Homo sapiens: one gene and its partners. The protein of the gene in region 4 purifies or fractionates together with the protein of the main gene of each other region. This does not show direct contact. Each region holds a gene or a part of one and is shown on either strand. Other genes may lie near its edges. The genes, in order: ABCE1, SCARB2, ESR2, NIPSNAP2, COX4I1, NTRK1 and LARS1.

Region 1 (3,500 bases), on a different chromosome or scaffold from region 4:
CATGTGCTAGGAACAACAAAGAGCCAATGTAGCTGGAGCCATACAAGAGCTAGAGTAGTTGGAGATGAGATCAGAAAGTTAACAGAGGCTGATCAATGCCTCATTGATTATTTTCAGGACTTTGGCATTTACTCAGATTGAGAATGAAGCCATTGCAGGATTTTAAATAGAGGAGTGACATGATCTAGCTTACTCTTTAAAAGGCTTCCTATGGTTCCTGTGTTGAGAATGAACTGTTGAGGGTTAGAGTAGAAAGAGGTGAGGGTAAAAGCAAAGAGATCTGTTAGGAAGCTATTTGAGTGATGCTGGTAAGAGATGATAGTGATAGCTTACACCAAACTCATGAGATCAGATTCTGGATGTTTTATAGCTTCAGTGGGATTTGCTGTTATTAGGTGGAAAAGAAAATGACTTCAAGGATTTGGGCCTGAGCAAATGGAAGACTGGAGTTGCCATCTAACAAAATGGGCAAGACTGCTGAAATTTTGGTGAGGATATCAGGAGCTTAGTTGGGAGATTCCTCTTAAGCCTTCCAGAGATGTTAGGTGGGCAGGAAGGGTTCAAGAGAGGTATGCTGACTAAAGATAGAAATTTGGAAATTTGCAGTATATAAATGGAATTTAAACCTGTGAGACCAGAATAGAACAACTTGGGGAATGAGTATATGTGGAAAAAAATGACCAAGTCTTAGAGCACTCTGCATTTAGAAGCCTGGGAGATGAAGATGAGTGACCAGGAAAACAGTAGAAAAACCAGATTAGTGTTGTATCCTAAAACCAAGTTAAGAAAGGGTTTTTATCTAGTAGGAAAAGTGTTTATTTGTGTCAGATGCAATTGATTGGTCAGGTGAATTAAGGTCTGATAACCATTTGTTTTAGCCATGTGAAGAACAATGATGGCTCGAAAAGTTTTGATTAAATGATGGGCTCTAGAGCCTAGAATGGATTCCAGAGAGCATGTAGCAAGAAATTTGAGACATTGAGTATAAGCAACTCTTTGAAGTAGTCTTGAAGAAGGAAAAATAAAACAATGGGAGACGATGGGGTCAGATAATAGAATGCCTGAATGCTGATAAGAATGAGCCAGTGGAGAGAATAATTGATGAAGTTAAAGACAGAAGGGAGAATTGTTGGGACATTCTTATGGAATGTCTTCTAGTGTACAAATGGTCTTAGCCAGGGAAATACATACAGTGTCATTGCTGGTTGGCATAAGGGTCCATTTGAGATGATGAATTTAAAGGGAGACTAGTCAGCAGGTTTTGTGTTTTTTTTTCACCTACCATTTTCAGCTCTATGTGTGCAGGTGAAGAGTCGAATTTAACCAAGATTGTGATTTAGGGTATTTTAGCTGGGTGAGAAGGAAAATAAAAACACCAAGAGCTGAGGGACAGTGGAAATATGATAGAATCAAGAGATAATGAAAGGTTTGAAGAATGGAGGAATCAGAGTTGTTGGATTGTTGTGTAGTAGGGGGTGAACTAAAAAGATAAGAATGGTGGTTGGAGAATGGAGTATTTGAAGTTGAGGTTATAGAAGGATTGCAATTACTGGTAATGATAAGGTCTAGGATGTAACCAGAAAAAATGAATGGCTGTGGTAAGGTAGAAGACAAGCTGTTTGAGGAGAGGGGTTAAATGAGAGGACAGGAGGGTCATCTGTGAGCATATTGAAATCGAGAACTATGTCAGGAGTTGTAAAAGAGTGTGTGAAAGTTAACAGGGGCTGAAATCTTCAAAGAATGAAAGGGAGTGATCTGGTGGTCACTACTAACTAAAGCAGTTAGATAGTTGAGATGCAAAACTTTTTAGGGAGGAGGGAGAGATAATAGTCTAGGACAGCGTCGAGGAGCAAGATCTCTTATCCCCATCCAAGCCTAATGATATTGATGGGTGTGAAAAAGACTTGAGATGTCTACAAAGGGAAGCAGTCTATTAAAAAAAATAAAATAAAATCAAGATTGATTATCACAGTAAGAAAAAGACAACATGATCTCTTTCTAAATGGATAATCTTGGTTTCAGATTCATTCATTACATATTGGAATAAACTTGAGTATTAAGGCACCTTTTGGAATTTTTTACTTTAATCACCATTCTAAGGAAATTAATTTCTGAACCACTAAGCCCAATATTGTGAAAGATTTTTAAGTTAACTTTGATCTTAATGCTGTGTAGTTGATTAAATTGGAATATCAAGACTTATAAAAGCTTTAAAAGTGAGCATAGTATATACATATAGTTATTTGGTCTCCTTTTAATTTCATTGCTATTATGATTATTTGCCATTTCTGTCAGTGTCATTATAGTCAGATGTACACGACGTGAAGTAATGCTTAGTTTGGGGGAAGAGCTTGTGGGATTTCCCCCATCCTGCTTCCCCTTTTTCAGTTTTCCTGGCTATTAATAATTCTTTTTCCATTAGAGCTTTAGATTTGCTTTGTCTGGGTTGGTTGGGGTTTTTTTTTTTTTTTGAGACTGGGTCTGACTCTCATCCAGGCTGGAGTGCAGTAGTGTGATCTCAGCTCACTGTAACCTCCACCTCCTAGGCTCAGGTAATCCTCCCACCTCAGCCTCCGGAATAGCTGGGACCGCAGGCGCACACCACCACATGTCTGGGGTTCTTTTGTTTGTTTTTTCTCATGAGATTGAATTAAATATATAAATTCAGGAAGGGTTTAAATCTGTGATATTAACTATTCTTTATTATAAAAACTGAGATAGCATGTCATTTGTTCAGGTCATTTATATCATTTGGTGTTGTTTTAAAGTTTTCTTGTGTATATATCTTGTTGAGTATATTCCTAGATATTTTCTTTTTGTCGCTATTGTAAATGACATTTTTTTCTTTCCTTATATAAATCTTCTGATTAAAGTATATATGTAAAATTTGATTTTCCCAACCTTACTAGATTATAGATTATTTTACAATTTTTACATTTGTCAAAATTTATATTTTTTTTTTGCAGATAATCATTTCATCTCCATATAATGATCATTTATGTTTTCCTGTCTTTCATGTATGCAAATTAGTTCCCTTAACTAATGGCATTAAATTTGTTGATTTTTCTTTCATAGAAGAGCTGGATATTCTTTCGCCCAGTTATGGCAGACAAGTTAACGAGAATTGCTATTGTCAACCATGACAAATGTAAACCTAAGAAATGTCGACAGGAATGCAAAAAGAGTTGTCCTGTAGTTCGAATGGGTAAGCTGTTCTGTGGATCATTTAAGTATAAAAGAAAACCATGAAAGAAATCAACTGGTTTGATAATTCTTTACGGACATTAACATAAACTTTGTGTTCACCATTAGTTTCATAAAACTGTGAAGACAAGAAAAGTAGTTTGTTCTAAATTTCTTTTATTGCTTTGTGACTGAAGGATCATATTTTTTAAAGAAAGACCAAATTTTAGAATAATACATCAATATTTAAAAGTGTATTGGATGTGAACTCAAAGCAGAGTTCAGCTTACTGATCTTGAAATCTACAAAATCTTATA
Region 2 (3,500 bases), on a different chromosome or scaffold from region 4:
CTAAAAGATAGCCTGTCAGGTCTGGATTTCCAGGCAGTTGTCCAGAGAGCTAAGAAGAGGGTGGTGGTCACTGCCAGAGAGTGGCATCCTAGTATAGGGCCCGCCTAGCGTAGCCATGGGGCACAGCTGCAGCACTTGTCATCCTTAGGGCAGCTCCATCTTTGCACTAAGGTTATAAGACTGTGTTCGTCCCTTGGTGACAAGCACTGCTAACAGTTTGGCTGATCCAAGGGAACTGATCAGCTGATGGCTAAGAGAAAAGGGAGAAAACCACACACGATTTTATTCACCAGAGCATAAGATCACTGGTTTCTCAGATACAAATGCAATGTATGCAGCTAAGAGTGTGAAGTACCCATAAAATACTGTGCTAAAAGAATGTTCTTGTTTTTTTTTTTTATTGGTCCATAATGTTCAAATTCCAAAAATGAAGACATGGTTAGCATGGTTTTTGTTTTTCTCGTCTATGAATACAGGAGTAAATGTGTATTATACACACACACACACACACACACACGTGTGTATGTCTCCTCTATGTATATCTGATACCTTTACAATTAATAATATAATAAACTCTCAAATAACCTGTAGAAAGAAGTTTGCCAAAAGTGACTGAGGTTAATATACATATTCATATTTCAACCAAAATATTCCTGGCAGTGAGGAAGCAAAGGGACATCTTTAACCTTATCGATCTGTGTCCCAAGGGGAGAAATAAATATATGTTGAGGTCCAAGGCTAGCATCAGAAGATTGACCAGGTTATATGGGTACATCAGTAGTTTCCAATAACTGAGTTTTCACTGTTGCTTTTTGTTAAAGGCAGGTTTGCTCGTATTTCTGCTATTCAATCCACAAAATTCAGCCTTCTAATTACAGGGCTATGAGACAATGCCTCCATCAGCACTGAGCTGAATTTCTCCCACTTGAATATGTATATGAAAGTAAGGATATTTTTAAAGAAGGCTCAGGACTAAACTGGTGAACAATGTATAGACAGAATAAAACATATGCTCTTTTACCAGGAGGAAGTATGTACTCACAGGATTAATGTCCACAAATGTCTCATGGTCTTCCTGATTTGGGTGCATGCCTTCTATGGCAGAAACAAACCTCTCATCTGCTTGGTAAAAGTGTGGGAAAGACATAATGATGGGTGCACCTGCATTTGAAGGAAAACAGAAATGAATGATGCTGTTTTTAAAATCTAAGCTGAGCTGAATATAAAAGTTCCTGGCCACAGCCTGGTTCCTAAAGAAAAACAAAAAAGCTACATATAAATTAACTTGGGTAGGCTAAAACACCATCCTTTACCTCCTAGTTCAGGATTTATACTTCATTTTCTGACATCTCATTTACCCCCAATTTTTTATTCCACATTATATATTGAAGTTCAGGCTAAATTATTTATTCTTCAACAAATATTTACTGAAGTTAAAGTATAAGTGCTTCATACACATTATTTTATTTAATGCTCCCAACAGCCCAGTAAAGTCAGAACTATTAGCCTCACTTTGCATTTGAAGAAAGTGAGGTTCATAGAAGTTACAAAATTTACCCAGGGACAGCTAGCCATCAGGCTATGAAGGCAGAATACTAAGTGAATGAAGGGTGTTGTACCTCAAAGCACTAGTTTCAACTACAATTCTCTATCAGTAAGTGGACTGACTTTTTATTTCTTGTCCTTTTTAAAATTAAAAAAAAATTTTTGGTGGTTTTTTGTTTTGTTTTGTTTTGTTTTTACCAAAGACAGGCATAATCTCAGCTCACTGCAGCCTCCGCCTCCCAGGTTCAAGCAATTCTCCTGCCTCAGCCTCCCAAGTAGCTGGGACTACAGGCATGCACCACCACACCCGGATAATTTTTTTGTATTTTTAGTAGAGACAGCGTTTCACCATGTTGGCAAGGCTGGTCTTGAACTCCTTACCTCAAGTGATCTGCCCGCCTCAGCCTCCCAAAGTGCTGAGATTACAGGCTTGAGCCACCACACCTGGCCTACATAATTTTTTAAGAGTTAGCCTGGTTGTGCTATACACCCAGCCTCTAACCAGATCACAAAGATTCTGGGGTTTTTCCTTTCCTATTCATTTTAAGAACCAAATAAGTGCTTATGTAAATTTAAATATATATATATATATATATATATATAACCAAATAGGGAAACAAGTTACTAAAGGAAACCTATTCTAGATCTGGCTATTGAAAAGAAGAGAGGGACCCAACAATTGCTGCCAGGGAAATACATTTTTGGAGAAAGGAGCTTGTCGGCAAGTTATTTAAATTTGCTTACATATTCACCAGCCCATGGCTTAAGGAACTCATCCCTCATCTCTCACATGCACATGCATTTTGCTGTTTACTGCTGAATAGTTCCACAAAGGCATGACTTCCTTCTTTGTGACCTATAATGACCTTGAAAATGTATTTTTTAAATCTGTTGAGGGCTTAATAGGGGCTACTGTCCTGAGTGTTTTATATATATTATTTCTAACTCTCACACAACCTCAAGAAGCTATAACCACCTCCATTTTATTAATGAGAAAACTGATGTCTGGAACCCTCCTTAATAAACTTTGGCCAATTTACCAACAAATAGAATAGGACTCAAACCCAATCTGCCTGACTCCAGAACACTCATCCTGCTATCCAAAATGTTTCCCTGGAGAATTCAAAACACTGGAGGATAATCCTGGGGAGTTTCACTTCAGTCCAAATTCGGGAATACGTTAAGAGGGAAGAGGAAAAGGATTGTAGCAAGAAGTTTAAATGTGTAAAGTAGAATACTTCTGTTGATTCTGGCATCAGCTTCTTAAGGAAACAGAATTTAATAAAAACAGCAAGAGAAAATATATCTACATTTTTGCTTTGAGCCAGATGCACACCAGATGAGGGGGCAGGGACACTGTTTCAGGACTATTACCAGTAAGGCAATGGGGGAGATCACAACCAGGAACTTGTTCCCATTCACCCTTGGTCTTTATCTCCAGGTAAAGGGTACCATGTTCCCTTGCACAATGGTCCCCAAATACCTAGACGCCATCTTTATGGAAATCAGCTGGAGTACTTGTTAAAAGTGTAGATTCTGGGGCCCTGGTATATCCAACATGGGACCCTGGGACATACATGCATGTGTGTGCACCATGAGTGTGTGTGCACACTTGCGCACGTGTGTGTGTATACCTATATATATATACTATATACATATATATTAAAATATAGCAAATATAAGTATATGCAAATATATGCATATTTATATATAACTATAAAATTTGTTAATATACTCATATATTAACAAATATATTAACATATACATACATAAATATATACATGTGGCTGTTAAAACTAGTCTTCAAGATGAAAAATACTTTTGTCAGTTGTATATATATATGTATATATACACATATATATGATATACGTATATATAAACAATTTTTTATATATATATAATTTTTTTGTTTTTTGAGACCAGGTCTCACTCTGTTGCCCAGGCTGGAGTGCAGT
Region 3 (3,500 bases), on a different chromosome or scaffold from region 4:
TGTCTGGCTAATTTTTGTATTTTTAGTAGAGATAGGGTTTCACCTTGTTGGCCAAGCTGGTCTCGAACTTCTGGCCTCAGGTGATACGCCCACCTTGGCTCCCCAATGTGCTAGGATTACAGGCATGAACCATTGCGCCCAACCTGAAAGTTATTTTAAATCTAGACCTTTATCTGAAATTGCAGAGTGTGAGATGTTTGTTCTCCATTTAAATGGGAACTTCAAATGTCTGAAGGGCTGCTTAGCAATGCTGTTGGGAATGACTGATGTTTGGAAGTGGTTGAATGCCTTCACACCCATCCATGCAGCATTCGTGAACTCTAGTAACTACAGAAGACCAATGCATATCCTGCCTGTGGTTCAGACCTGTGGGTAAGATTTGATCTGGCCACTCCTTTCATTACACTTAGAGATGTAGCTCCCACCCCATGGCTATGACTGGTCTTCGGCAGTGACAAATGCTCATCAGCATCACGTGGATGGGCATAAACTCACCTACCCACTTTCAAACATTAGTCATTCCCCACAGCGTGGCTCTTTGTAGATATGATATCAGTATCAAAAGCTTTGCTGTATCAGATTTCCGGGAATATATTTACCAGGAACCCTGGAGGAAAAAGAGATTAAATTAGGCAATGTTCATGCTATTTTTTTTTCCTAGAAAGCCCTTCCTTTCCCTTTTATGCTCTGTTCAATGGATATTTTCTTTGCTCCCTAGAGAGACACTGAAAAGGAAGGTTAGTGGGAACCGTTGCGCCAGCCCTGTTACTGGTCCAGGTTCAAAGAGGGATGCTCACTTCTGCGCTGTCTGCAGCGATTACGCATCGGGATATCACTATGGAGTCTGGTCGTGTGAAGGATGTAAGGCCTTTTTTAAAAGAAGCATTCAAGGTACAAGAGAATTGTTAACTGCTTCTTTAGTTTCCTACTTTTGATTTCAAACAATTTTGCAGAGATGACTTGGCAGAAATGTCACTACTGGCCTGTTTGGCACACAAAGTATTTGATGAGCAGTTCAGAGGATCATGTGTGTTTGGAAGTGGGTTGGGTGGTGGGGTGGAATTGCAGATTTCTACCCCAGAACCCCAAGATTATACAGCCAACTCGAATGGGTCTTACCCCTCGTTCACCCACATGGGTGTTGGATAGAAGACATCGAGTTACAACCTTGTGAAGATGTCTCTTGGAAAAAATGTGCTCACAAGGAGTTGCAAAGATTGTTTCTTTCTTTTACTTAAATTTAATATATAGCATGCTTAACAGTCATGATGGTGGGCTGGCTCCTGAGGAAGAAAGAATAAACACATTTTTTGGAAATGGTCAGAAATCAGGAATTCAGCTACAGTGGACTTTGAGAATTGATCTAGACACATTTCTTCCCCTAGGCTAGGAGGGTCTCAGTTCACAATCCCCTTGTTTTCTGGGCTGTGTTTAGATTATTTCCCTAACTTTCTCTAAACGCCTTCTGGATTTTTTTTTTTAAATCAACTTGTTGATGAAAAGAATCAAACTCTGTAAAATATTTGAAGAGATTTATTCTGAGCCAAATATGAGTGACAAATGGCCTGTGACATAGCCCTCAGGAGATCTGAGAACATGTGCCCAAGGTGGTCAGGCCACAACTTGGTCTTATACATTTTAGGGAGACATAAGGCATTAATCAATGCATGTAAGATGTACATTGATTCAGCCTGAAAAGGCAGGACACCTGAAAGCAGGGGCTTCCAAGTCACAGGCAGTTCAAAGATTTTCTGATTGGCAATTGATTGAAAGAATTATTATCAGTAGGAAGCAATGATTGGGTTACAATAAGGGATTGTGGAGACCAAGGTTTTATCATGCAGATGAAGCCTCCAGGTAGCAGGCTTCAGAGAGAATAGATTGTAAATATTTCTTAGGGGTCTTAAAGGGTCTGTTCTATCAGTGATTCCAAAAGGGGAGGGAGGGTATAATGAACCATGTCTGTCTCCCTTGTTCCATCATGGCCTAAACTTATTTTTCAGGTTAACTTTGTAATGCCCTTGGCCAAGAGGAGGGACCCATTCAGATGGTTGAGGGGCCTTAGAATTTTATTTTTTGGTTTATAAACTTCAAGTTGTGCACCCCTGATTTCAAGGCTGGTCAGCTCATCTCCCTGCATGTGTCTTTGCTACACTCCTTCTCTCGTACCAGCCCTGATTTGCTGAAGTCACTTTCTTGCTTACTCTTGTTTTCTCTATTTGCCCCATAACCTGTCCCTCAACTGCTCCCTCCCAGGCAACACCCTATGTTTCCATCTGAAAGCTCCCTTCCTTTTTCTATCAAAGCCCCAATGCTTTGTTCTTTGCCAGTTAAGAAAAGCAACGTTGAGAGAATTCATAGTGTGTAAATGGCAAATAGCAATTTACTAAATTAACTCACCCATTGATAACTCTAAGAGGATGTTTTACCTTAAGCAGAGAAATACTGATAGAATCCAGGATATGGTGAGGAGTGAAATGTTGGTAGTCACCTTCCTACCTGTCCCCTGAAATTCACCCTGTATGAATGGCAGCCTCTTTGTCCTGGATTTTATAATTACTAGCTCTGCGACTTCACCTCCTAGCCTGTTTCCTCCTCTGTGAAATGGAGATACTCATAGGGATTTTCTAAAGATGAAATAAGGTTGATTATATGAAAACATATTCAGTGCTCAAATATTTTATTTGTGACAATCTTAACAGTAGATTATAAGGCCAAGTCCATTTCCTGGCTATATGATAAGAACAATATTGATTTTCTGAAATTCTGAACTGAATTCTTGATACGATGACTATTTTGTATCTTGCTGAGTTTCTAGGATTTTACCCCTTAAGAACGTTTGGACCTATTACTACTAACCATATCTTTTAAAAAGAGATCCTTCTTTTTTTTTTTTGCTTTTGGGGAAACATTGGTCTGCTTGAAACATCTTTGACCCCTGAGACTACAGCTAATAACAATTGAAAGTAAATTTCCTTTGCTTCTCTATGTTGTTTCTTCCTTCCTGCTGCATCAGACAGGAATGTCAAATTCTAAATGTGCAAAGAGGAAAGAGTTAAAGCTGTTACAGTTGTACAGTTGTAGTGCCTAAATGATCCTTTCTTTGCATGCTTCCTGTCTTTGATATAAGTGCATTACAGTAACTGAAAGTGGCCACTTATTTTTAAAATTGTCTCAAATAGGCCAGGATGGTACAGTATTGAGAAATTCCTTGCATGTAACTTTTTTTTTTTTTTTTTTTTTTTTGGAGATGGAGTCTCATTCTGTCACCCAGGCTGGAGTGCAGTGGCACAATCTCGGCTCACTGCAAGCTCTGCCTCCCAGATTCACACCATTCTCCTGCCTCAGACTCCCAAGTAGCTGGGATTACAGGAGCTGGCCACCACACCCTGCTAATTTTTTGTATTTTTAGTAGAGACAGGGTTTCGGCATGTTAGCCAGGATGGTCTCGATCTCCTGACCTTGTGATCCGCCCGCCTCGGCCTCCCAAAGTGCTGGGA
Region 4 (3,500 bases):
ACGCCTGTAATCCCAGCACTTTGGGAGGCCGAGGCAGGCGGATCATGAGGTCAGGAGATCGAGACCATCCTGGCTAACACGGTGAAACCCCATCTCTACTAAAAATACAAAAAATTAGCCGGGTGTGGCGGCGGGCGCCTGTAGTCTCAGCTACTCAGGAGGGTGAGGCAGGAGAATGGCGTGAACCTGGGAGGCGGAGCTTGCAGTGAGCCAAGATCATGCCGCTGTACTCCAGCCTGGGCAACAGAGCGCGACTCTGTCTTAAAAAAAAAAAAAAAAAAAAGAAATACTGTTGTAGAAAATCATCTAGTGTTTCTAAAGAGATCCCCAAGAAGAGGTTCACACTGGCCCATCAGCATCTGGACTTTTATGTCCAGAAGCACTAAGATTCTGGACATTTATGCTGGCCCTTTGGAATCCCAGTACATTACTGATCTAGGAAAAGGCAGAAAAGATCTATGTGTAGGTCAGTTGGAGAGCAAAAGTAGCTGGGCATGGTGGCTCATGCTCGAAATCTCAACACTTCAGGAGGCCAAGGCAGGAGGATCGCTTGAGGCCAGGAGTTCAAGGCCAGCCTGGGCAACCTGGCAAAACCCATTCTCTATAGAAAATACAAAAATTAACCAGGCATGGTGGTGTGCATATGTTGTCCCAGCTAATCTGGAGGCTGAGGTGGGGGAATCGTTTGAGCTCTGGGGGTCAAGGCTGCAGTGAGCCGTGATCACACCAGTGCACTCCAGCCTGGGCAACAGAGTAAGAGCCTGTCTCAAAAATAAAAAGAGAACAAAAGTATAAAGGGTATGCTGTGATAGACCTGGCCAGAGGTAAGATCACCAATTATAAAAGGGATTGTGCAGAAAGAAGGGGCAGGAATTCAGAAGGCTACCCTTCTGTATGATTCCATACATACGATGTTCTAGAAAAGGCAAAACTGAGGGACAAGGAACACAGCAGTGGTTGCTAGAGATGGGGAGAGGGGTTGATTATAAAAGGATTAACTTCAAGGGGTGAAGAAGCTGTTGTGATGCTGGTTACATTACTTTAGGCATTTGTCAAAACTCAGTACTGTCTGCCAAAAAAGTACATTTTATTGTACATAGATGTGAAAAACCAAGAAGATGAGGGAAACGCTGTTTGTCATTTGATCATGGTTACATAAAGTTCAGAAGAGGGCTGAGCGCAGTGGCTCACACCTATAATCCCAGCACTTTGGGAGGCCGAGGTGGGCAGATCACTTGAGGTCAGGGGTTGAAGACCAGCCTGGCTAACATGGCAAAACCCTGTTTCTACTAAAAATACAAAAATTAGCCGTGCACGGTGGCACACCATGTAGTCCCAGCTACTCAGGAGGCTGAGGCGGGAGAATCGCTTGAACCTGGGAGGTGGAGGTTGCAGTCAGCTGAAATGGTGCCACTGCACTCCAGCCTGGCAACAGAGCGAGATTCTCTCAAAAAAGTGTGTGTGTGTGTGTGTGTGTGTGTGTGTGTAGAAATTGTTCAGATAGTTCAGAAGGTTATACAATGAAAAGAAAAAACCTTTACTCCCACCCCAGGCCCAGTCATGTTCCCCAGATGTCATCACCCTTTAACAGCTCACTCTGTATGTGTATATATAGTGCTGTTCTGTGCCGGCTTTTTTACAGAATTTATCTTGGAGATGTCAGCACATCAGTGCACATAAATCTACCTCATTCTTTTTATCGAGTGCATATTTTCTGACGGGGAGTATTTCCTAATTTACGTGACCAGTCTGCATTAATGGCTATTCAAATGGCCTATGCCAGGAGATAACTGGAAACAAGACAGCAATGAATATTTGTATGCATTCAACTTTGTGCACCTGTCTAAATATAGCTGGCCGTAGGACATAACCGCAAGTGTCATTATTGGGCTGAAGTCATACACAGTTTCCATTTTGATATGGATGATGCCACACTGCCCTCTTGGGAGGTCAACAAATTTGTATTCCTATTAGCTGGCATATGGGAGTTCAACATGCACATAGATATTTGTGAAGTAGGGCCAATTGCAGTGGCTTACACCTATAATCCCAGCACTTTGAGAGGCTGAAGTGGGAGCATTGCTTGAGGCCAGGAGTTTGAGAACAACTTGGGCAACATAGCAAGACCCCATCTCTACAAAAAATTTAAAAAAATTAACCATGCAAGATGACGTATGCCTCTAGTCCCAGCTTCTCAGGAGGCTGAGGTGGGACGATCACTTGAGCCCAGGAATTTGAGGCTACAGTGAACTACAGTGAGCTATCGCACCACCACACACCAGCCTGGGTGACAGGGCAAGACCCAGTCTCAAAAAAAGAAAGAAAAAATCCATGAGTAAAGTATAGTTTGTGACTTGAGTCAAATTTATCCTCACTTTCTGAAAGCATTCACAATAGAAATTTAATTATGAGATGAAAATTAGCAAATTATGTGTTAATAAAGTTGGTATTCTGAGGTTTGTGGGGGCAGTTAAAAAATTTTTGATTTTTAAAGTTAATTTTTACAAATCTTGATTTTTTTTTTGGCCAGGCTCGGTAGCTCCTGCCTGTAATCCTAGCACTTTGGGAGGCTGAGGCAGGTGGATTGCCTGAGCTCAGGAGTTCATGACCAGCCTGGGCAACACAGTGAAACCCCATCTCTACTAAAATACAAAAAATTAGCTGGGTGTGGTGGTGTGTGTCTGTAATCCCAGTTACCCTAGAGGGTGAGGCAGGAGAATCGCTTGAACCTGGGAGGCGGAGGTTGCAGTGAGCCCAGATCGTGCCACTGCACTCCAGCTTGGGCGATAGAGCGAGACTCCATCTAAAAAAAAATTTTTTTTTGATTTTTAAGTTACTTGAGGGGTAAATTTTTTTTAAAGAAAGAATGTATTTCATTTTCCTTGTATTTTTAAAATATTTTTATTGTGGTAAAACATATATACATAAAATTTGCCATTTAAACCATCTTAAGTGCATAATTCAGTGGCATTACTTATATTCACATTGTTGTACAATCATCACCACTATCTGTTTCCAAATCAAATAATATTTTTTAAATTGTGGCAAAATGTACGTAATGTAAAATTCACCATTTTAACCATTTTAAGCATACAGTTCAGTGGCATTAAGTAGATTCACATTTTGGGGAAACATCACTACCATTCATCTTGAGAATTTCTTCATCTTCCTAAACTGAAACTCCTTACCCCAACCTCCCCTTTCCTCACCTCCTGGCAACCTCCGTTCTGCTTTCTGTCTCTGTGGGTTTATCTACTCTAGGTATCCATGTATATTTTTTCTGTGTCAAAAATTGCTTTGAAAAACACATAGTGCAAATTGCAAAGATAAATGTGGGCTCTCTTATAGGAGTGCCACACATTTTACATTTTTCTTTGCTTCTGCTTCTTGGAGTGCATGCTGTTGTCATGGAAAGCAGGCATTCTTTGGTAGCCCAGGTTCTGGAACGGTGCCTAGAATAGCTGCTCACTGTGTTTGCCAGATTAACTGATGGATATATG
Region 5 (2,437 bases), on a different chromosome or scaffold from region 4:
GCCCAGCAGCTCTCGGAAGCGTGTGTGTGACAGAGCCTCTGCTCACTTCTGGGCCTACTGTCTAGAGGCAGTCTTGCACAGGAGGGTTGCTCTGCTGGGTTTCGGGGTCACTGTGCCAGGGCCCCAGTTTATGTGCTCACCAGTCACTTAGCTCTGCCAGCTGACAGGATCTTTTGCTAGGCCCCCTTCTCTGTGCTGAGTGGAGGTAGCCTCTCAGCATATCTGCTGGGTAAGACATAGTTAACTGTAAATTATTGAAAGAAACTCAGCAAAATGCATAGTGTTTGGTATGAAAGGGGCAGAAAAATAACAAGATTAAATAGACCCTAATACTGTAATTCAAGTAAGAAATAATTTTGCAGTTTTAATTTGCACCTGAAGCGAACTGTATGCATTTTCTTCTTTCCTTGCCCTGTCACATGCCTGCGTGGGCACGTGTGTGCACGTACGTGCGTGAACATGATGTGGCCTGGGTTGGTGTATCCTTCAGCTCTGTGTTTCCTCCTTCACAAGTGTGGTTTTGGGGAGAAGTGGTTGAATGTTGCAGAGGAGGGAGCTGCTGACCTTTGTGCCTGTAAATGGCTGTCCTCTCTGCCCCCAGTGTATCGCATTAAGTTCAAGGAGAGCTTTGCTGAGATGAACAGGGGCTCGAACGAGTGGAAGACGGTTGTGGGCGGTGCCATGTTCTTCATCGGTTTCACCGCGCTCGTTATCATGTGGCAGAAGCACTATGGTGAGTAGAGAGGGAGGAAGGCATGGGCGCCTGGACTGGGGCTCCAGCCTGCAGTGCCCATTGGTGGGCTGTCGGGGACCTCCATACCTTGAGGCTATGAGATAGGGACTGCATTCCAGAGTTCATCTCAGGATTGTTTCCAGGCCTTGGTGACCTGGAGAACTGAAGTCGTGGGAGGTTAGTTTATAAGCCAGCATCTGATTATTCATAGCCATGCTTGTTGGGTGGTGAAATACCTTAACTACTTTGTACAGCACACCACGTTTTCAGTAGCAATTTATGTGCTCACCAGTCACTTAGCGAAAGATGACTTCGTGAAGGTTCGAGCAAGGATAAGGGGACTCATTCATTGAATGACTGTCTGGACTGTTGTGAGGACTGCATCTCAACAGCCAGCATCTGGGGGTCCCGACCTGATAGTTTGTGTGTGGGCATTGCCGGGTTGCTCGCTCGTGGTAATGACTCTTCCCCGAGGTTCTTTCTGTCCAGGCAGAACAGGCATTTTTGCATTCTGAATAGGTATATTCTCGTACTTTTGGTTTGAATGTGGATGTGGGTTAATAACAGACCCGAATCTATTTGATCTTCCAGGTCACCTTGGGCTCTGTTTGTCAGATCCTGTTATCCATAGCCTTTAGAGAGGACCTTCTGCTTTTAGCTTATTTTGTTGCTAACTTTTTACAAACAAAGGGCTAATTTTAAAATGTCAGTGTTGTCAGTGGTCAGAAACCGTGTGTTTGAGCGGGTGTTGAGTGGCAGGTGGCTCTGCTGACCTGGTGGCTGGTGTGTCGGGAGGATTTAACCTGTGTGAGGGATTGGCCTAGAAACAACCTGTTGAGATAGTCTTGCCCCATAACCTGTCTCACACCGTAGTGTACGGCCCCCTCCCGCAAAGCTTTGACAAAGAGTGGGTGGCCAAGCAGACCAAGAGGATGCTGGACATGAAGGTGAACCCCATCCAGGGCTTAGCCTCCAAGTGGGACTACGAAAAGAACGAGTGGAAGAAGTGAGAGATGCTGGCCTGCGCCTGCACCTGCGCCTGGCTCTGTCACCGCCATGCAACTCCATGCCTATTTACTGGAAACCTGTTATGCCAAACAGTTGTACCACTGCTAATAAATGACCAGTTTACCTGAAACCCTTTGTGATCAGTTCTTTAATGATACCTAAATGAAAGCTAATTAAAACAATAGGTTTCTCCCAAGGGTCTGGAGTAAATATATTTTGGGTGCAAATGAAATGGCAAAAATCTAGTATCTTAAATTGTATAAGGGGACATTATATAAAAACTGAAAATATAGAATTCCTTGATGTAGGAAATTTGAGGTTTTTGGCAAGAGATCTTTATATAAGTAAAATCCCATTATCGTAGGCACACCGGCAGGAGTTACCACAACCCTTTTTTTTTGTTTTGGGAGACGGAGTCTTGCTCTTGTCACCCAGGCTGGAGTGCAGCCGCACAATCTTGGGTCACTGCCACCTCCACTTCTCGGGTTCAAGGGATTCTCCTGCCTCAGCCTCCCAAGGAGCTGGGATTACAGGTGCCTACCACCACGACCAGCTAATTTTTGTATTTTTTAGTAGAGACGGGGTATCACCATGTTGTCCAGGCTGGTCTTGAACTCCTGACCTCAGGTGATCTGCCCGCCTTGGCCTCCCAAAGTGCTGGGATAACAGGTGTGAGCCAGTGTGCCCGGCCTATGA
Region 6 (4,071 bases), on a different chromosome or scaffold from region 4:
CCGTCACCGCCTAGTCCCTTGGTTCTGACCAAGATCCCGAGGAAGAAGGCGATCACTGTGTAGGGCTCTGCCTCCGTCTGGTCACCTTCTTGAGCTCAGGCTGCTCGGTCGGTCTGTGTGTCCCTGTCTCGGGGACTTGGGGGGCCATCCGTGCTGGGGCCTTGGCGGAGAGAACCGTGAGCCTCTAGGAGGTCGTCCTTCCCCCGCTCCCTGGGGCCTTGCCTGTCTCCCCGCCAAGAGACACCCCTCTTCCCTTCGCTCTCCCCAGCTTGAGACGGATGGGTTAGTGCAGCCACGGAGGCTTGCGCGGTGGGAGGGGTTGGGACCAGCCTTCTGCTGCCCTGGGTGCTGGGGATCCCGGGGCTTTCCAGGTGCTCGGCCTCCAAGGTGCGCGGTCCTCAGCTCCACCCGCGGGCGGCTCCTGCGTCCGAGGAGCTAAGAGAAGATCTATTAATTTCTTCACGAATAAATCGATGCTCTTGTCAGGGAGGCGATCGATGTCAGCCCTGCCCTGCCTTGCCCTATCCTGCCCCGGGGCCGGCGCTGGCTGGCCGGGGTCAGGGACTGAAGCTGAGACCTGAGGCGTTGCTCACTGGGGGCTGCAGATCGCACCCCCAGGCACCCAGCGCGGGCGGGGAGCTCGCGCCTTTGCGCGCGGGCTTCTCGCGCCACCCTGTGGCTTCTCTTGGAGGCGCGGTCTTGGCTCTCCGGACTCCCTTCGGCCGGATTAGGCGACCCCTTCCCTTTCTCTGCCCCGTCTGTGTCTTCCTCCCCAGGTTCTGCGATTGATCCTTTGGTAGTCCTTTTCGTTTTCTTCCTAGAGTTCGGAGAATGTTCTACCTAACTTACTCCAAGTGACATGCTCACTCCCCTAGGCACGCGCGCCGCGAGGATGGAGCGCTGAGCCTGGGGCTGGCTAGGATGACCTGGACAGCAACCTTTCCTCAACGCAGTCATCTTCCCTCCTCCCCAAATGTAAAAATGCAGCTGCTTTAAGCTGAGAGAAATAACGTATCAGCTTCCCACCTCCGGCCTCAGCAGACACCTCCGAGGCGTTCTGCTGCGGCCCCTCAGCGTCTGCCGGAGCTGAGGCGGATCCTCGGGGAGAAGGCTGACGCTGGGGGCCCCTAACAGGGGAGGGGGCAGAGGGGGGGGCGTCAGAGAGTAGGAAGCGGGTGGAGAAGAGGGGCAAGGCGGGGCCGGGCGGGGGCCGCTGGCTCCGCCCTTTCCTGGCGGCTGGGTCTTTAACACCGCCCAGCGCACATGTCGGGGGAGGCCTGGCAGCTGCAGCTGGGAGCGCACAGACGGCTGCCCCGCCTGAGCGAGGCGGGCGCCGCCGCGATGCTGCGAGGCGGACGGCGCGGGCAGCTTGGCTGGCACAGCTGGGCTGCGGGGCCGGGCAGCCTGCTGGCTTGGCTGATACTGGCATCTGCGGGCGCCGCACCCTGCCCCGATGCCTGCTGCCCCCACGGCTCCTCGGGACTGCGATGCACCCGGGATGGGGCCCTGGATAGCCTCCACCACCTGCCCGGCGCAGAGAACCTGACTGAGCTGTGAGTGTCCGGCGGGCGGTGGGGGGGCGCGGGGACAGGCAGGCATTGCAGTGCCCCGAGGGCGCGGACTCGCTGCTTGTTTGCTGGTCAGGCAGGACGAGCACGGCGGAAGGCTGGCACCACGCAGCCTTCGGCGCTGCCCGGGCGTTCCTCCGCAGCCGCCGCTGCCCTAGCAAGCTTTATGGTCAGTGCCTGGATGTCCCCTAGTGTTCAGGGCAGCTGGGCCGCCGGCTTCAGGGAGATCGAAGGGGGAAATCTCCGTGGACCAGGTCTGAGAGAGCCTAGCCGTCTAGAAGGCGCTTTCTGGAGCTCAGCCAGAAGCCCCTGCTCTGTCCTACAGAGAAGGATGGTTACCAGCAGAGAAGTCCCCAGTTTGTCACCCTTACTGCCTTTTTCCTTTTCTAGGGGCAAGCCAGCCCCCGCCCACTTTCTTGTTATGAGGAGGCAACCCTAGCTTTTCTTCTGGAATTGGGGATTGAGCTGGCTGGCATTGGTGGGAGGCGGTGAGGAGCTGAGTGGTTGAGCTCTCCTCTTTCCATTTTTACCATTCCTTCCCCCAGAACCCGTTGATTTGGATCTGGGAAATGGGACCCCCTCCTGGATTTTCTCTCCCCACTCCCATCTCCCTCTCCAACCTTGTCTCTCTACCTGGGGCGGGGAGTCAGGGCCCTTGCTGAGAGACCCTCCTCCCTTTGGTACACGAAGCTGGGAGGAATCTTCAGCATTCTGCAGGACTCTGACATTCTGCAGGAATTGGTTACAAAATACTCAAGTACTTTTTAGCAGCTGGTGAAACCTATGGGAGTATGCGGTAATGACTGGCCTGGAGGTACTCAGGCATCATATGGTGATGGCTGGAAAATACTTGAATATTACATATGGCTATCATGGCCAGCAAGACATCTAGAAGAGGGGAGAACTGCTAGAAAATCCTCCTCCTGTGGCCTGGGGTTTCGAGGGTGGACAAGGAACCTTGGCCTTGTGCTGTGATGGGCTGGAAGGTATCCGAGGTGAGGATCATCACTGTCTGGAAGTTACTTGAGCAGCTTGCAGTAATTGGCACTGAGTTCCTTGGGTATCTCATGGTAATTAACGGGAAGGCACTCAATCTCTCTCTCTAATAGCTCTAGGGAGACCAGGAGTAGAGGAGATGGCCTTGTCTTGGTCTAGGCCTAGGTCTCTGCATGATGGGAGGGGGCATGAGAGACAGGTTGCCAGTCCTAGTCCAGTTCTCTCATCACCCTGGGCCTTCAGATTGGGGTCCAGACTCCTGAGTGCTCCCCATCAGGGCTCGTGTTTCCCAACTCTTTCCAAGCCCCAAGTGGGTCCAGCAGGGTAGGGATGGGAGTGGTAGGGGGAGTGGACAGGCCAGAACTGGGGACTAGCAAGCATGTAGGGTGGTGAGCTGAGATGTCCCCCTGGGTGGGGCTGCAGCCTGACATCCCCCTCCCCACTGCCTGCACAGCCCCCTCCCTCCTCACTCACCCGCAGAGCTAACGAGGAGATAATGGACTCGAATAGACAGATTGATTATGAATCCAAACGAATGAGGCAGCTTTGAGGCAGCTTTGAGCACGCTGGCCTGACAGCTCCCACACACCCTGCCAGCCCACTGCATTCTCACCCCCTCCCTGGGTCCCTACAGCTTGAAACCCTCTGGGCAGGGGCTGGGGGGTGGGTAGAATAGGGACTTGGCCTCCCTCGGAGTCAGTGGAGGTTACTTTATAGGCCTCTACTAAGTCCACAGGGAAACTTAGGACCTGATCCTGGCTGTCCTGGTGGGGCCAAGGCTGGGAAGGGAGGAAAGGAGGAAGGGAGGGGTCACTTAGGCTGGTCCTGGTTCCTATAAGTTAGGGAAAGTTAGAGGGTAGAGGGGGAGAGTTCTGAGAACCGTCAGTGAGTCAGGGGCCCCTGGCATGTGTATTGTTGGGGTGGGGGGGGCACACTAACATGTCACTACAGGGCAGCCGAGTTCTCAGGAACTCCCTGGTATGTCGGATCCAGCAGCTAGGCAGGCCCCAGGGCGTCAGCTGTCCCCTAGCCCCGAATGCCTACTCATTCTTCTTTCTTTCTTGTCTATCTCGCTTTCTGTAGCTCTCTGTCCTTATCTGTCTGTCTCCCTCCCCTTATCTGTCTTCCTTCTTGCCTGTCACTATCTCTCTGACCTCTTCCTGTCAGTTTCTCTTTCAGTGTCTCTGTTTCACTCTCTCTTTGTTTTTCTGCCCGTCTGCCCCCACCCTCCTCGTTGAGCCTTTCCATCTTTCTGTCTCTCTCTCTCTCTCTCTTGCTGTGTAAGTCAGCCAGTCTGTGCCTCTTCTCCCCTCCTCGACACTCTGACTGCCTCCTCTCATTGCTCCTCTCCTCTTTCCTGGGTCCCTCCTTGGGGTCCCTAACTGATAGCCTGTAAGACTCTTGCTTGATCTGCTGAAAAGATGGTAGGGGAGGTTTCGGTGGAGTAGGGGTTGCTGCTTGGGTGTGAAGAGGGGCCAGAGGCTATGGGGGTGCAGAGATGTTTGTG
Region 7 (3,500 bases), on a different chromosome or scaffold from region 4:
CTCCAGCCTGGGTGGCAGAGGGAGACCCTCTCTCTCTCACACAGACACACACACATAAATACAGTGAAATTTCATATTACCCATGACCGTAGGGTAGGAGATATGACTAGGCTTCATGAGGCCCTACATACTTTTGCCTTTGTGGGTGGGTCCTTTCCTCTGTAAAAATATTAGAAATTATATTTTACAGACCGGGCTGGGTGGCTCATGCCTGTAATCACAGCACTTTGGGAGGCTGAGACGGGTGGACCACCTGAGGTCAGGAGTTTGAGGCCAGCCTGGCCAACATGGTGAAACCTCGTCTCTACTAAAAATACAAAAATTAGCCAGGTATGGTGGCACGCACCTGTAATCCCAGCTGCTCGGGAGGCTGAGGCAGGAGAATTGCTTGAACCCCAGAGATGGAGGTTTCAGTGAGCTGAGATTGGTCTTGCTGTGTTGCCTAGGCTGGAGTGCAGTGGCTCCATCTTGGCTCACTGCAACCACCGCCTCTTGGGTTCAGGTAATTCTCCTGTCTTTGCCTCCCGAGTAGCTGAGATTATAGGCGCATGCCAACGCATCCGGCTAATTTTTGTATTTTTAGTAGAAATGGGGTTTCGCCATATTGGCCAGGCTGGTCTTGAACTCGTAGCCTCAGGTGATCCACCTGCCTCGGCCTCTCAAAGTGCTGGGATTACAGGCATGAGCCACCAAACCTGGCCAAAAAAATTGTTTTTCTTTTAAAGAGGAGGTCTTTCTATGTTGCCTAGGCTGGTCTCAAACTCCTGGCCTCAAATAATCCTCCCTCCTCAGCCTCCCAAAGTGTTGGGATTGTAGACATGAGGCACTACATCCAGCCAAGTTACTTATTAAGAAGAGGTTTTGAAGTGAGAGGGGGCAGTGGCGTTGATAGTCTAAATGAAGGTGGTTAGTAGCAGGAATGGAAAGGGATGAACAGTTGTGCAGGCTTATTATTTCTTAGAAAAGAAAATACCTTATACAATCACTGTTTTATGGAAACTTGAAAAGAGTCCAGGTATTTTTTTTTTTTTGGTGGGGGATGGAGTTTCGCTCTTGTTGCCCAGGCTGGAGTGCAATGGTGCAATCTTGGCTCACTGCAACTTCCACCTCCCAGGTTCAAGCGATTCTCCTGCCTCAGCCTCCCAAGTAGCTGGGATTACAGATGCGTGCCACCTTGCCTAGCTAATTTTTGTATTTTTAGTAGAGATGGGGTTTCACCACGTTGGCCAGGCTTGTCTCTAACTCCTGACCTCAGGTGATCCTCTCACCTCGGCCTCCCAAAGTGCTGGGATTACAGGCGTGAGCCACCGTGTCCAGCCTGTTTTATTTAAATTTCATATGAACAGTTCTTTAACAATTTTGGAGAGAAGTTCTCTATCAGTATCTTTGATATTCATGTATTTTAATTAAATAGAAACATTTGATGACAGTGTTACATTGTAGTATATAATTTTAAAAAAGCATATCAAAGCCTTTTACATATTTCAGTAATTGTTCAACCATTTCTTTGAGGTTTGAGGTACACAGGTCATGATAATCCTAATTTTTTTTTTCTGGCGGAGTCTTGCTGTGTCACCCAAGCTGGAGTGCAATGGCATGATCTCGGCTCACTGCAGCCTCCGCCTCCCTGGTTCAAGCGATTCTCCTGCCTCAGCCTCCTGAGTTGCTGAGATTACAGGTACCCGCCACCACGCCCAGCTAATTTTTGTATTTTAGTAGAGATGGGTTTCGCCCTGTTGGCCAGGCTGATCTCGAACTCCTGACCTCAAGCAATCCACCCGCCTCGGCCTCCCAAAGTGCTGGGATTACACGCATGAGCCACCGCGCCTGGCTGATAACCCTAATTTTTAATGTTCATTTAAATTTCAAGATAACCATGGAAAAATCAGTCTTTATCAGTGAGCAGCTCAGTTCTGTGAACCCAATTCTTTTTTAAAGCAAGCGTGCTGAAATACAGAGTGGATTATTCTCTTTGTGTCCAATAGGAAAGAAAAGGAACAGCCAAAGTGGACTTTTTGAAGAAGATTGAGAAAGAAATCCAACAGAAATGGGATACTGAGAGAGTGTTTGAGGTCAATGCATCTAATTTAGAGAAACAGACCAGGTGAGTAATAGTTTGTGAAGTTCTGCACATTGTATTTCTATATATATATATATATATATATATTTTTTTTTTTTTTTTTTTGAGACGGAGTCTTGCTCTGTCGCCCAGGCTGGAGTGCAGTGGCGCAATCTCGGCTCACTGCAAGCTCCGCCTCCCAGGTTCATGCCATTCTCCTGCCTCAGCCTCCCGAGCAGCTGGGACTACAGGCACCCACCACCATGCCCAGCTAATTTTTTGTATTTTTAGTAGAGATGATGTTTCACTGTGTTAGCCAGGGTGGTCTCGATCTTCTGACCTCGTGATCCACCCGCCTCGGCCTCCCAAAGTCCTGGGATTACAGGCGTGAGCCACCACGCCCGGCCCTGTGCATTGTATTTCTAAAACCGTTGGCTTTATAGTACAGAAACAGCTTGGTGGAACCCATAAGGTAGATTGTATTTATAATGCCTGAAACAGGGTGAAGGAGGTGACTTTCACTTTCTGCATATGAATTAGGATCTTTTTTCTTATGGGGTTTGTAAAGATTTTTTTTTCTAAATAAAGTTTGTTTTGTTTTGTTTTAAAGACTACAGTATTTTAAATATTTAGACAAAGAAGGATGTTTTGAGATTTTTTTCTTTGCTGACTGATAAAACGAAATTATTCTATTAGACTCATAGACGATTATTATCTCCAAAGACAGAAAATGTAAATTTTTATGTTTTTTCTTTACAAGTAAACCTAATGCTTATAGAAGTATAAATGTTGAAGATATTATTTCATAAATACTGCATTGCCTTGATACTAAAATAATACTGATTTAAAGACAAACGTAGATCATGACATGATATTTGGGAAAAACAAAAACAAAATAACTCCCCCAAACATTGCCTTAATAAATGTATGCATCAATTATAAGATATATCCCAGATTCATATATGTTGAGATGTAAGAAAATGTGCTTTTTCAGATTGAAGAAATACGGTTATAGTAACAACAATAATAGTAAGTTAACATTGAACACTTACTGTGTGCTAGCAAATGTGCTAGCAAATTTTTTTACATGTATACTCTCATTTAATCTTCTTTTTCTTTCTTTCTTTTTTTTTTTTTTTTTTTGAGACAGTCTTGCTCTGTCATCAGGCTGGAGTGCAGTGGCGCCATCTCGGCTCACTGCAACCCCCAACTCCCTGGTTAAAGCGATTCTCCTGCCTCAGCCTCCTTAGTAGCTGGGATTACAGGCATGTGCCACCACGCCCAGCTAATTTTTGTATTTTTAGTAGAGACGGGGTTTTACCATGTTGGCCAGGATGGTCTCGATTTCCTGACCTCGTGATCCGCCCACCTCAGCCTCCCAAAGTGCCGGGATTACAGGCATAAGCCACCGTGCCTAGCCTTTTTCTTTCTTTCTTTTTTT

What was found.
Region 1: the proteins of NIPSNAP2 (region 4) and ABCE1 purify together in Homo sapiens (affinity purification with mass spectrometry, with the first as the bait; one large-scale study listed by BioGRID). This does not show direct contact.
Region 2: the proteins of NIPSNAP2 (region 4) and SCARB2 fractionate together in Homo sapiens (co-fractionation; one large-scale study listed by BioGRID). This does not show direct contact.
Region 3: the proteins of NIPSNAP2 (region 4) and ESR2 purify together in Homo sapiens (affinity purification with mass spectrometry; 2 studies listed by BioGRID). This does not show direct contact.
Region 5: the proteins of NIPSNAP2 (region 4) and COX4I1 fractionate together in Homo sapiens (co-fractionation; one large-scale study listed by BioGRID). This does not show direct contact.
Region 6: the proteins of NIPSNAP2 (region 4) and NTRK1 purify together in Homo sapiens (affinity purification with mass spectrometry; 2 studies listed by BioGRID). This does not show direct contact.
Region 7: the proteins of NIPSNAP2 (region 4) and LARS1 purify together in Homo sapiens (affinity purification with mass spectrometry; one large-scale study listed by BioGRID and IntAct). This does not show direct contact.

Annotation. Positions count from the first base shown.
Region 1 is NC_000004.12:145,101,311-145,104,810, forward strand, and holds part of ABCE1 (ATP-binding cassette sub-family E member 1), read left to right. Parts: intron 1-3,075; 5' UTR 3,076-3,102; coding exon 3,103-3,205; intron 3,206-3,500. UniProt on the Homo sapiens protein: Nucleoside-triphosphatase (NTPase) involved in ribosome recycling by mediating ribosome disassembly. Able to hydrolyze ATP, GTP, UTP and CTP. Splits ribosomes into free 60S subunits and tRNA- and mRNA-bound 40S subunits.
Region 2 is NC_000004.12:76,168,825-76,172,324, forward strand, and holds part of SCARB2 (lysosome membrane protein 2), read right to left. Parts: intron 1,162-3,500; coding exon 1,043-1,161; intron 1-1,042.
Region 3 is NC_000014.9:64,277,372-64,280,871, reverse strand, and holds part of ESR2 (estrogen receptor beta), read left to right. Parts: intron 1-718; coding exon 719-891; intron 892-3,500.
Region 4 is NC_000007.14:55,974,585-55,978,084, forward strand, and holds part of NIPSNAP2 (protein NipSnap homolog 2), read left to right. Parts: intron 1-3,500. UniProt on the Homo sapiens protein: Protein involved in mitophagy by facilitating recruitment of the autophagy machinery required for clearance of damaged mitochondria.
Region 5 is NC_000016.10:85,805,132-85,807,568, forward strand, and holds the end of COX4I1 (cytochrome c oxidase subunit 4 isoform 1, mitochondrial isoform 1 precursor), read left to right. Parts: coding exon of another isoform or gene 1-22; intron 23-601; coding exon 602-733; intron 734-1,324; coding exon of another isoform or gene 1,325-1,371; exon of another isoform or gene 1,372-1,606; coding exon 1,607-1,743; coding exon of another isoform or gene 1,744-1,856; 3' UTR 1,857-1,937; downstream 1,938-2,437. UniProt on the Homo sapiens protein: Component of the cytochrome c oxidase, the last enzyme in the mitochondrial electron transport chain which drives oxidative phosphorylation.
Region 6 is NC_000001.11:156,859,594-156,863,664, forward strand, and holds the start of NTRK1 (high affinity nerve growth factor receptor isoform 2 precursor), read left to right. Parts: upstream 1-1,271; 5' UTR 1,272-1,341; coding exon 1,342-1,553; intron 1,554-4,071. UniProt on the Homo sapiens protein: Receptor tyrosine kinase involved in the development and the maturation of the central and peripheral nervous systems through regulation of proliferation, differentiation and survival of sympathetic and nervous neurons.
Region 7 is NC_000005.10:146,176,151-146,179,650, reverse strand, and holds part of LARS1 (leucine--tRNA ligase, cytoplasmic), read left to right. Parts: intron 1-1,985; coding exon 1,986-2,104; intron 2,105-3,500. UniProt on the Homo sapiens protein: Aminoacyl-tRNA synthetase that catalyzes the specific attachment of leucine to its cognate tRNA (tRNA(Leu)).